Linked DNA regions of Homo sapiens: region 2 is linked to region 1. The links come from fine-mapping of genetic effects on gene expression. A gene starts in region 1. The other region holds a variant in brackets. All regions are shown on one strand. Distances are from middle to middle.

Region 1 (5,512 bases):
CATCTGGAGAAAGCTGACTCTGCCACTTGCTTTGTTCCACTGTTAGTACTCAGGATAAGGAGACTTCTCAAAATCAACCCAGGTTGATTCCTCTATAGGGACTTCAATTATGACACGAAATAGCCTTCATTCCATAATCATGGAATGATTGTTTTAAGTCTTGTTTTTTGAGTACAAGTTCAAAACCCAATTCCTTGAGAGGTGGAGGCAGACAGTATAGTAGGAAGAACACTAACTGGCTGAGAGACCCTGGCCATACCAATTCATTTCTCTGGGTCTCCATTTTCTTATCAGTGAAATGAATGGGAGGCCAAGGCGGGAGGATTGCTTGAGACCACGAGTTCAAGACCAGCCTGGGCAACATAGTGAGAGAGTGTCTCTACAAAAAACTTGCCTGGGCGTGGTAGCTCACACCCGTAATCCCAGCACTTTGGGAGGCCGAGGCAGGCGGATCACCTGAGAGGTCAGGAGTTCAAGACTTGCCTGGCCAATATGGTGAAACCCCATCTCCACTAAAAATACAAACAATTAGCCGGGTGTGGTGGCAAACACCTGTAATCCCAGCTACTTGGGAGACTGAGGCGGGAGAATTGCTTGAACCCTAGAGGCAGAGGTTGCAGTAAGCCAATATTGCACCACTTCATTCCAGCCTGGGCGTGACAGAGAGAGACGATGACTCAAAAAAAAAAAAAAAAAATTAAACATTAGCTAGGCATGGTGGTCATGGCCAAACTCTGTCAACGGTTCCTTTCAGGACTAATACTGTAATCCCATAAAGAGCCAGGTCAATTCAAAGATCAGAAGAAAGGCGATGCCTCCGTCTAGAGCATATATGCAAGCTCACATAAGGTTTCAAATACACAAAGGTTTGCTGACAGAGACAGGATGTTCTGATTCTATTTTCTATGTTTTAGCTTCAACAGAAATAATGTGGTCCACTTGCTATAAAGACTTCTCTCATGTATAACTTCTGATTTAACATGAATTACAGTTTTACAGTTAAACTTTTAAAACTGGTAGAGAGGAGAGGATTATTTATTGAGTGTGCTAATTAACAAAAGTTTTGGTTTGGTCTATTGTCTTTTTATTATCATCACCCAAGATTCATACTTGTACAAATATGCTTTGGGGAACAGCCTTCCAGAGGTTTACCTATGTTAAGTCCCACATATGAAAGAGCGGTGAATACTTTCCTGAGGCAGCAAACACTATTGAAAATTCCAAGCTCAGCAAAGTATGCTCCATATTTTGATCAATAAAAGCCATGTGGTTTAAGAAAAACAGAGCCCACAAATACTGCTGCATATTTTTGTCTATTTTAAAAAGTTTTCCTCATGCCGCCCTAAGAATATTTTTGTCTATTAAAAAACAAAATCTATGCCTTGGTTAGCGTTGATTTTATGTAGTCATAATCAGTCAGAGCTTTATTAAAATACTAACGACCCACAGCTTTATCTTAGACCTTTCTAAAACAATTCTTCACCATATTCATCTTTGCAAGGATTCATTCTTTGGTACAAAAGCAGTGAGAAACACAGCTCTGGCAGACACTCTGCAGGGATGCGGGCAGGTTCATCGTCTGGCCCCTGCTTTCACCTGGCAGACACTGGACACACTGCTGAGAAACCAGCTCATCTCAGTATGTCTCTATTCTACCAAAAAGAGACGAGGCTCTGCTCCAATTCTGACACCTCATTCCGAAATCACCAAAATCTCCATCGGGTCCTAAGCAGACAGAATGTCGCAGCCATTCATCCTCAGAAGTCTTGAGAATAAAATTAAAAGTAATTAATTAAAATAAAACTACTTGCAATTAAAAGTAAACACCGGCTAGGTCATGCAATTCATACTGGCCGGTGCTCACATAACTGAACTACCTTGTGATTCTCTGCTTTGCTGTCAAAATCCTCCTCCACCTCCAATGCTGATACCACAATCCAGAGGCTAGAGACATTTAAGTGAAGGGATGATTCTAATAACAAACATACTTCTATACGTTTCCAATACCTCTGCCCTGTCCCAGAGCTGGTCCCACTCCAAAACCCAGGCTTGCCACTACGCTAGCAAAGGGGCAATCCGAGTAACTCTGATACTCAGATTCCCAAACATTTCTGTTACTTTCCACCACCACCACCCCCCCCACCCCCCGGCTTCTGACAGCCTCTGCAAAAGCACCAGCACTGCAAATGCCTGTTTGGCTTCCATCCTTCAGCAGGCAATGGAAGCTTTTCCAGGAGAAACCTAATTCTAACCTTTCCAGAGGCCAGGAGACGGCAGCGCAGGGATAGCACCTGGCGCAAGTGCCTGTTTGGATGCCGAGGTCGCCTCCCTCGCGGCCCTCGGACCCCGCGAGGCAGGTAGGCTTTGGGCCGGGCCGGCCGGGTCCGTGCGGGGCGCCGACCTCGCCTACGACGCCGCAGCCCCGCTCCCCAGGAGCCTCGGTCCCTGCGGGCACGCGTCCCCGTCACGGGGCCGATTACAATGGAGGCCGCTCCCGTCCTCCCGTGGAGGGGCTCGGTGCCCTCGGTGACCCTGCTAGACCCGGCAGGACGCCCCTTGGGCTAATTCGCCCGGGGCGGGGGAGACCTCGGCCTTCTCGAAGACCTCCCGCGCTCGAAGACCGTTTCGGAGCGTCCGCAACCACTGAGTCCCCGAAGACCCGCGGGGCCCCCTCAGGCCGTCCCGACCCAGACCCCTGCCCCTGCCCCTCTCCCTCCTCGCGGCTGCGGCGCCCGCCCGCCCTCACCGGACTTGGGCGGGTAGCGGTACACGGAATTAGACGGGATGTCCACCTCCTCCACGCCCGCGTGCTGCCGGCTCGTCAGGGCCCCCATGGCCGCTGCGGCTGCAGCCCCGGCCCGGCCCCGGTGCCCGCGCCGCCCTCCGCGCTTCACCGCGGCCGCCCGCCCCGCGCCCGGTGCGGGGGCCGACTGCCCGCCGCGGCCGGCTCCGCTGCGGCGCTGCGGCTCTGGCGGCGGGGAGCCCCCGGCGCGCCGCGCACCATCCTCCGCCGGGCACCGCGGCGGCGCCTCTGCCAAGGGGGCTGCGGGTCTGGGCCGGGGGCGCCGCCGCCGCCTCAGGCCGCGTGATGTCAGCGGCCGCTCCGCGCGGGGACCGCGGCGGCCCCAGCCAATGGCGAGGCGGGGCGGGAGCGCCCGCGCCGGAGCAGCCAATGAGCGCGGGACTGCAGCAGGAGCCGGCGGCGCGTGCCTCGCGCGGGGAGCCGCGGCTGGACTCGGCGCGCGTGGACGCGGCCCAGGGCCTCGCGGCGGGGGCGTGGGCGTGGGCGGGGACTCGCGACGGGGACGGGGGCGCGGCCGGGTGCCCGCGGCGGGGCGGGGCGGGACCGGCCGGAGCTGGGACCCCAGGAGACGAGCGCTGCACCCGGCCGGGACGCGTCGCCCCTCCGCGCCTGTTTATCCCGGCTCGGATTACCGCGCAGGGAGCCGCCCCCTCCCGCGGTCCGCGAGGACTGGCCGGGAGCTCGCTCGCCATTGTCCTGGGCGTCCCAAAGCGGGCGGTCCCCGCTCCGCTGCTCCCGCGCCTGGAGGAAGCCTTCCCAACCCCGCCCCTCAGCGTCGGCCGGCGGAGGTCTTCGGAAATCTCATGCAGGGGGGTAGGGAGAGGGGTCCCACGGTGCATTCGCATGTCTCCTGCCCCGTGTTAATGCTGGTGACCGGCTAGGAAGATGCCGCCTCCCTCTCACGTGCGTCTATTCAAAGCGCTCCCAACTCTATACATGCTGTTTAAGGCTCCTTGTAGCCCTAAAGTTAGGAGAACATCGACTGAGGATAAGATCAAGACATCCAGCCTCTGTCTGTATCGTGGAAACGGGACCCCGGAAACTTTGGAAAGGCCTGAGTGCCAAGAGAGTCAACGCAGGCGAAAGCGAACCGGGCCAGGCAGAACCGGGAGCTCCTGTTGATAAAAACACACACAACAGTGGGAAGCTTGGGCCGGCGGAAGACGTCATTCCATTGCTTAATTACAGACATTTGTGTTTTAAACCTTCTATTTTCTTTGTGGGTCTGGTGTTTTTTTTCCTGAGAGAGTGGACTGATCAGCAAACATTTCAACTGCTAGAACATGACTTTCACAACTTTTCAACAGTGTTCGAAGTACAGTTTGGGGTGTCTGGTTCCCTTGATTAGGTTTGTAAAGCTATTTTACGGAGTCTAGGTCTTTCCTGGTTATATTTTGTTTTTGTTTTTCTGTGTTTTGAGACGGAGTCTCCCTCTGTCGCCCAGGCTGGAGTGCAGTGGCGTGATCTCAGCTCACTGCAACCTCCGCCTCCTGGGTTCAAGGGATTCTCCTGCCTCAGCCTCCCGAGTAGCTGAGACTACGGGCATGTGCCACCACACCCGGCTAATTTTTCTACTTTTAGTAGAGATGGGGTTTCACCATGCTGGCCAGACTGGTCTCCAATTCCTGACCTCCGCCCCCCAAAGCGCTGGGATTACAGGCGTGAGCCACCGCGCCCGGCACATTTCGTATTTTTCATTGCCGTCTTTTCAGCAGCAGCCAACAGACCTGATGCTAAGTGCCTTGGTTTCCTCCAGGGTCCTCAGGATGGTGGGAACACATCCCTGTCATTTATATTGGCTGCTGCTAACGAAGGCTTGGGTTACAGGGCAAGTCCCTGCCCCGGCAGCTTCTCCCAAGCACCAGAGCTCTCTGGCAGAGTCCCTGGTCCTAACTACTCCAGGGCTTTCAGTCATCCCTGTGGGAGGGAACTGGTGTCCTCCTCCATACTCCTTTCAGCACACACAGGCCCTACCTTGTAACTGCTGGGTAAAGGTAAAATGCAAATAAGAATCTAGAACCACCTCAAAACACAAGGCCTTCGACACATCACAGAGTAAAATGTTGCCTTATGCTCCTCGGCTCTGTTCAGAAGCCTTGGTTCTTCCTGCCCTCGGCATTTTGTAAACGGGACATCCCTTCCCTTTGTGGGTTTATCCATGTCTGAGAGTTTCTTCTGCTTAGCCAGGGCCAGGCAGGGATGTGGCTTAGTCAAGCAGCCCAGTCCTGTTGCTTATGGGGTGTCTCTTCTGGTCCCACCTTGGCCTGACCCTGGGAAGCCAGCTTCTCCATCTTGAATAATACTCCCCAAGCCTAGAAGTTGGTTCCTCCTCCCACGAAGGAGTCATGAGTCCAATGCTTAGAATAGTAAAGAAAAACAAGGCATAGCACAATAAAATTAGTGGATATTTATGGAACACTCTATGTGCCAGGCTGTTTTAAACACTTCACACGTATTAAAGCATTCAACCCTCCCAACAACCCTATCAAATACATGCTATTTACACCCCGATTTTACAGTCGAAGAGAATGAGGCACAGAAAGAGCACTAGACTTTGAGTTGGACAAATCAAACCCCTAAGCAGCTATGTAACTTTGACTTAAGCCCTTAGAAACGGTCTCCGTTTCCTCCTCTGAAAATAGCCCAGTCTCCAATGGTTATTGCAAAGATGCAATAAGTGAATCAAGACTCTTTTGTTTTGTTTTGTTT
Region 2 (5,097 bases), 29 kb after region 1:
CTGCTGCTGCTTGGCCTCGGGACTGGTGCCCGGCACTGGTCCCTGGGGGGAAGCGGCGCCAAAGTTGGGGGGAGGGGGAGAGGGCCGGGGGCCTGGCGAGGGGCTCAGGAGCTGGGGGACCCCAGAGCCAGGGGATGGGGAGGGGGAGAGGGTGATGCCCGGACGTCTGGGGCACTGGGAAGCCCGCGCGAAGGGCCCAGGGAGGGCGATGGGGGTGCTTGTGTTTATGGGGACCCCCTCGTGCTGTTGAGTGGTTTCCCCCCTCCCCCTCCACACACACACACACCCAGCGCTACAGGGAACAGGAAAGGCATGAATCCACCCTGGCTCAGGAAGCCGGGCTCTACCCACAAAGATCTGTTCAACCTTCCGAAGCCCAAGGGGACTGGGAAGTTGGAAGGACATACATCCCCCAAGCCAGGAGGACACACAGATTTTGACCCAAGATAAGGCCAGGAATGTGTCTTTAATCTCTGTGTTGAGCTCCACCAGCCCAGCACACAGAGAAGTGGTCCGGGGTCTGGATTTGCTTTCTTTTTCATTCTAGCCCAGGCCCAAGCTTTTGCCCTCCTGGCCATGGGGTACTCTGCTTTCTTGAGGCCCAGGACATCTCTCCTGTACCCTACCCCCCTAGTTACCTATTAGCCCTGCTGGGGGAGGAGGGGCAGGGCTCAGCGATAGGGATCTTAAAACATTGTTCCCCAGGAGAGCTGTTGTGGACTCTAGGTGCATTTTTGGGATTTTTAACACTTGGTGCCCTTGCCTTTGGCTCTCTGTTTTCATCTAGTCACAGAGGACAAGTAGAGGGGTCTGTCTTGACCTTGTTAGCTAGTTTTTCTCAGAATGGCTGATGCTGTATATAAATCAAGCCAAAATGGCATTTGAGTATGATGGGAGCATGGTGCTGGCCACAGGGCTCTTAGAAACCCAAGAGGGTTTCATCTCCAGGGGACACCGTCCCCTGCACTTGACCAGGAGAAATGGCCAGCACCCGCCTATGCTTGAGTCTCGAAGCTTCCTGCCATCTCCTGTCACCGGATCCTTGAGATTTCCTTCCACCAGCTGTGGCCATCCCAAAAAACTCAGAACTTCCAGATACTACAGCCATTCTGAGGGGCTGAGAACAGGGAGGCTCCCCAGGAAGAGCTGGTCTGGCATCCTGTTTAGTTCCTATTGCCCCTCCTCTGCAAATCCCAAGGAGATGCTAAGTCTCTTTTGAAGCTTCCCTCAAGGAAGGCAGCAGGTTTTGTAACACACATAACCAGTGTGTCCATCAGTGCCCAAGTCTGAGTGCCTTAGCAGCACAGTGGAGGACACCATCCCTGCTCTCAAAAAGTTCATGGTTTCTTTTTTTTTTTTTTTTTTTTTCTAATTTTATTTTTGAGAAAGGCCAGGGCAGGGGGAGTCTCTATGTGGCCCAAGCTGGTCTTGAACTCCTGGCCTCAAGCTATCCTTCCGCCTCAGCCTCCCGAAGTGCTGGGATTATAGGTGTGAGCCACTGCACCCAGCTGGCAATTTCTTTTCTTTTTTTTTTTTTTTGAGACAGAGTTTCACTCTTATTGCCTAGGCGGAGTGCAATGGTGTGATCTCGGCTCACCGCAACCTTCACCTCCTGGGTTCAAACGATTCTCCTGCCTCATGGGATTACAGGCACGTGCCACCTGTAATCCCACACCTGGCTAATTTTGTATTTTTAGTAGAGACGGGGTTTCTCCATGTTGATCAGGCTGGTCTCGAACTCCCAACCTCAGGTGGTCCGCCTGCCTCGGCCTCCCAAAGTTCAGGGATTACAGGCGTGAGCCACTGCACCCGGCCTGGCAATTTATTTTGGACAAAGTAAGTCAAAGGAAAAAGATCAAAAAACGAAACACTAGAGACCAGTAACAGCAAAATGGCAAAACCAGAAGTCATGAGTAACTGATAAATGGTTGTCCCGTACATTACTGTAGATTCCCATAGTTGGAAGCTTCCCAGTTGATAAGGAGGGCTTCCCAGTTGGAAGTGGAGAAAGGCACTACAGACTTGAAGTGGGAGGACAAAGGTACAGGGGACAATGGGTTTTCTTGAGAACTGGCCGAGAGGGCATATCTGGTTCAAAACCCTCATTTTACAAAAGCAGAGAGAAGCTCCAGAGAGGTTCAGGAACTTGCCCAAGCTTACACAGGCAGGCCACCACAGGCCTGCCAGCCATCATCCCTGCTGTTCTCTGGCGGCTGTTTGAGGAGACAGGCCTCGCTGGCTGGCGGGGAACTGGGGAAGTCGGTCACGATGCTGTGATGCAATTGGCCTCCACCCCCACCCTTCATTCATTGTTTCCTGCTGCCGAGAAGTCATCCCCAGAGGGTGGGGGGGGGGCAGGGAGTAGTGGAGGGAGGAGGGGAAAGGTCTGGGTGGGGCCAGGCCTCTGCATTGGGTCCTTTGGCCTCCCCCTGAGGACCCCTAGAAAGGCAAGGGTCAGAGCTCCCTTGGTGCCCTGGGTGCTGACATGGTGTGGGGCTCAATGGACAGGGTGTGCTAGTGTCCCCATTCCATGTATGTTACACACCCCCTACACAACCTCCGGTTTCTAGCTGTGAAAGCTCCCTCTGTTTTTTTTTTTTTTTTTTTTGAGACGGAGTTTTGCTCTGCCACC[T/C]AGGCTGGAGTGCAGTGACGTGATCTCAGCTCACTACAACCTCCACCTCCCGGGTTCAAGTGATTCTCCGGCCTCAACCTCCCAAGTAGCTGGGATTATAGACGCCCATCACCACACCCAGCTAATTTTTGTATTTTTTAATAGAGACAGGGTTTCACCATGTTGGTCAGGCTGGTCTCGAACTCCTAACCTCAGGTGATCCACCCGCCTCGGCCTCCCAAAGTGCTGGGATTACAGACGTGAGCCACTGCGCCCTGCCAAAGCTCCCTCTTTCAAGGTGAAGAGCCCTCAAGTCGTTCCCCCAACTCCTGCGCCTGGGGGAGGGGCCAGTGTTGCTAAAATTAGGAGAAATTCAAAGAAGGACTCCTGTGGCTTCCTGGGAAAGGGAGAAAGCAGCTTTGAGGTCCCAGCCAGTTTTGTGTGGTCTTGTTCTCTGTGTTGCCTCTTGCCCATGCTGCTGACGAGGTGCTCCTGGATGGCACTCCAGCCCCTGCCCCCAGGGTAGTGACAGAAGACAGCAGATGGGGGACTGTAGCTACCCCCAGGAAGAGGACTGAGGGGCTGGACAGACTGAGAAACTGCCAGCCTGCAGGCAAGGGCAGGCCAGCTGTGTTTGTGGCCTGAGGCTACAGACACAGGACATTGAAATCCCTGGTTTGTGTCCTCAAGGGGCCCAGATATAAAGGGGCTCTTGACTCTGTGCAGCGTGGCCCAGTAGATGTTAAGAGCTTGGGCCTGCAGACTTGGGAGCTGGGGAGGTCCGTCTTCTCAACTTGCCCTCTGCTGTGGGTGCATTTTCGGGCAAGTGACTTGACTTCTGGGCCTCAGTTTCCTCATTTGTCATAAAGAGAGGATAATTGAAGCCACTAAGTGTCATTGTTAAGGGAGGCAAAGCCTTCAAGGCCTGGTGGCTGTCACCCTTAGTGTGGTGTGAACCCATCCACCAAGGTGGCTTAACTTTTCCAGGGTTGGCACAGGAGGGAGAGCCTCCCCGCTGGCCGCTCTCCCTTGCCTAGCAGCCTGGGAGCATCTGAGGGTGGCTGGTGGGGCAGTCAGCTGGTCTCCCTGCCCAGGGAAGGTGCGGAACAGTGGTGTCCTGGGCTGCCCCCTTGCCCTTTCACTTTAATCTGACACCTTAGCTCCTGGGTGCAATTAACCATTTACTTTGAATGCTCCTCGGGGTGTCATTTCCAGGCCTCATGAAACCCCGTTGGTTTTGATAAGGTTCTTGGGTTTTGTCCTTGTTTTCTGTTTGTATTGCCTCGGGGAGAGGGCACTTTTGTCCTGTGGAAGCTGCTTGTGCGAAAATGAATGAAGCTGAAAAATGGGAGTAAAGGAGCGGCTGGCCTGGGTAAGCCCCATCCAGTGGCTCGGGGACCCCCGAGGCAGCCTCCCCACACCCGTGTTCTCTCCCGCAGATGTGCACTCCCAGCAACACCCCTGCCACGCCGCCCAACTTCCCCGATGCGCTGGCCATGTTCTCCAAGCTCCGCGCCTCCGAGGGCCTGCAGAGCAGCAACAGCCCCATGACAGCCGCAGCCTGCTCCCCACCTGCAAACTTCAGCCCCTTCTGGGCCTCGTCCCCGCCCAGCCACCAGGCGCCCTGGATCCCGCCCTCCTCCCCCACCACCTTCCACCACCTCCACCGCCCACAGCCCACGTGGCCCCCAGGAGCACAGCAGGGGGGCGCCCAGCAGAAAGCCATGGCGGCCATGGACGGCCAGAGATGAGACTGGACGCCGCCGGGCGCTGGGCTGGAGCTGGGGGCAGCCCAGGGTTGTGGGGACACAGGAGGGCCAGGGAGGGGGGAGCCGGGGAGGGCAGGGGGTTTCCCGAAGATCGCACTGGAAGATTTTATAAAAGAATTTTTGTGGGTCGGGGGGACAGTAAACTTCCTGGGCCACGTGGGTCCTTCAGGAGTTTTTCAGGCAAGTTTTTCCTCTGTTTTTAATATATAACTATAATATATATGAATAGATAAATATAACTAATGTGCGTGAGAATGGGCCTGGCACACCTGGGGTGCTCGGGGGTAGGGCTGCCATGCTGCAGAGCTGATGGAGTGATGTTGTGGGCACAAGGCATCTGTCAGCTGCCTCCTTTAACAGCCATGCCTTCTGGAATCTGGAAGAGGACACCACTCCTGCAGTCACTGGGCAGCCACATAGCAGCTGCAGGTCCCAGGAGGGCCTGAGGTCAAAGCTGTGGAAGGCCCTCTTGGTATCAGGGCTCTCTCCCCATGGCCTCTTCCCCACCTCTGATTGCTGGTTGTGGCCCCATAGCTCATCACCCCTGTCTCCTGCTGAATGTGCAGGGCTGATGTGGCACTGAGGAGCTGACTTTGGTCAAAGGCCAGGCTCTGCCCAGCAGGGGACTTGACTGCCCTGGGCGCCCTGCCCCTCCCGCTGCGTGTCCAGGTCCAAAGTGGAGAGCCTGCCTTTGGGTTTAGTTCCCGAATCAGAATC

Evidence for each region. PIP is the estimated chance that this variant, and not a neighbour inherited with it, causes the effect.
Region 2: its variant is the best candidate, but not a certain one, in a credible set for the expression of RNF157 in lung (TOPMed, PIP 0.55).

Annotation. Positions count from the first base shown.
Region 1 is chr17:76,237,407-76,242,918 of GRCh38, forward strand. RNF157 (ring finger protein 157) reads right to left here and starts at 3,087. Exons shown (of 19, transcript NM_052916.3): 1 at 2,747-3,087. The coding sequence starts at 2,834. LOC105371896 (a long non-coding RNA gene) reads right to left here. Exons shown (of 6, transcript XR_007065913.1): 6 at 3,456-5,512. RefSeq lists an enhancer at 2,055-2,727 and silencers at 3,032-3,171, 3,192-3,261.
Region 2 is chr17:76,266,144-76,271,240 of GRCh38, forward strand. It overlaps UBALD2 (UBA like domain containing 2), which reads left to right. Exons shown (of 3, transcript NM_182565.4): 3 at 4,051-5,097. The coding sequence ends at 4,362. Among named protein-coding and RNA genes, the nearest start is that of UBALD2, 3.3 kb to the left of the region's middle. RefSeq lists enhancers at 1-17, 1,988-2,217, 3,918-4,107, 4,988-5,097. The variant T/C (reference allele first, on the strand shown) is at 2,633.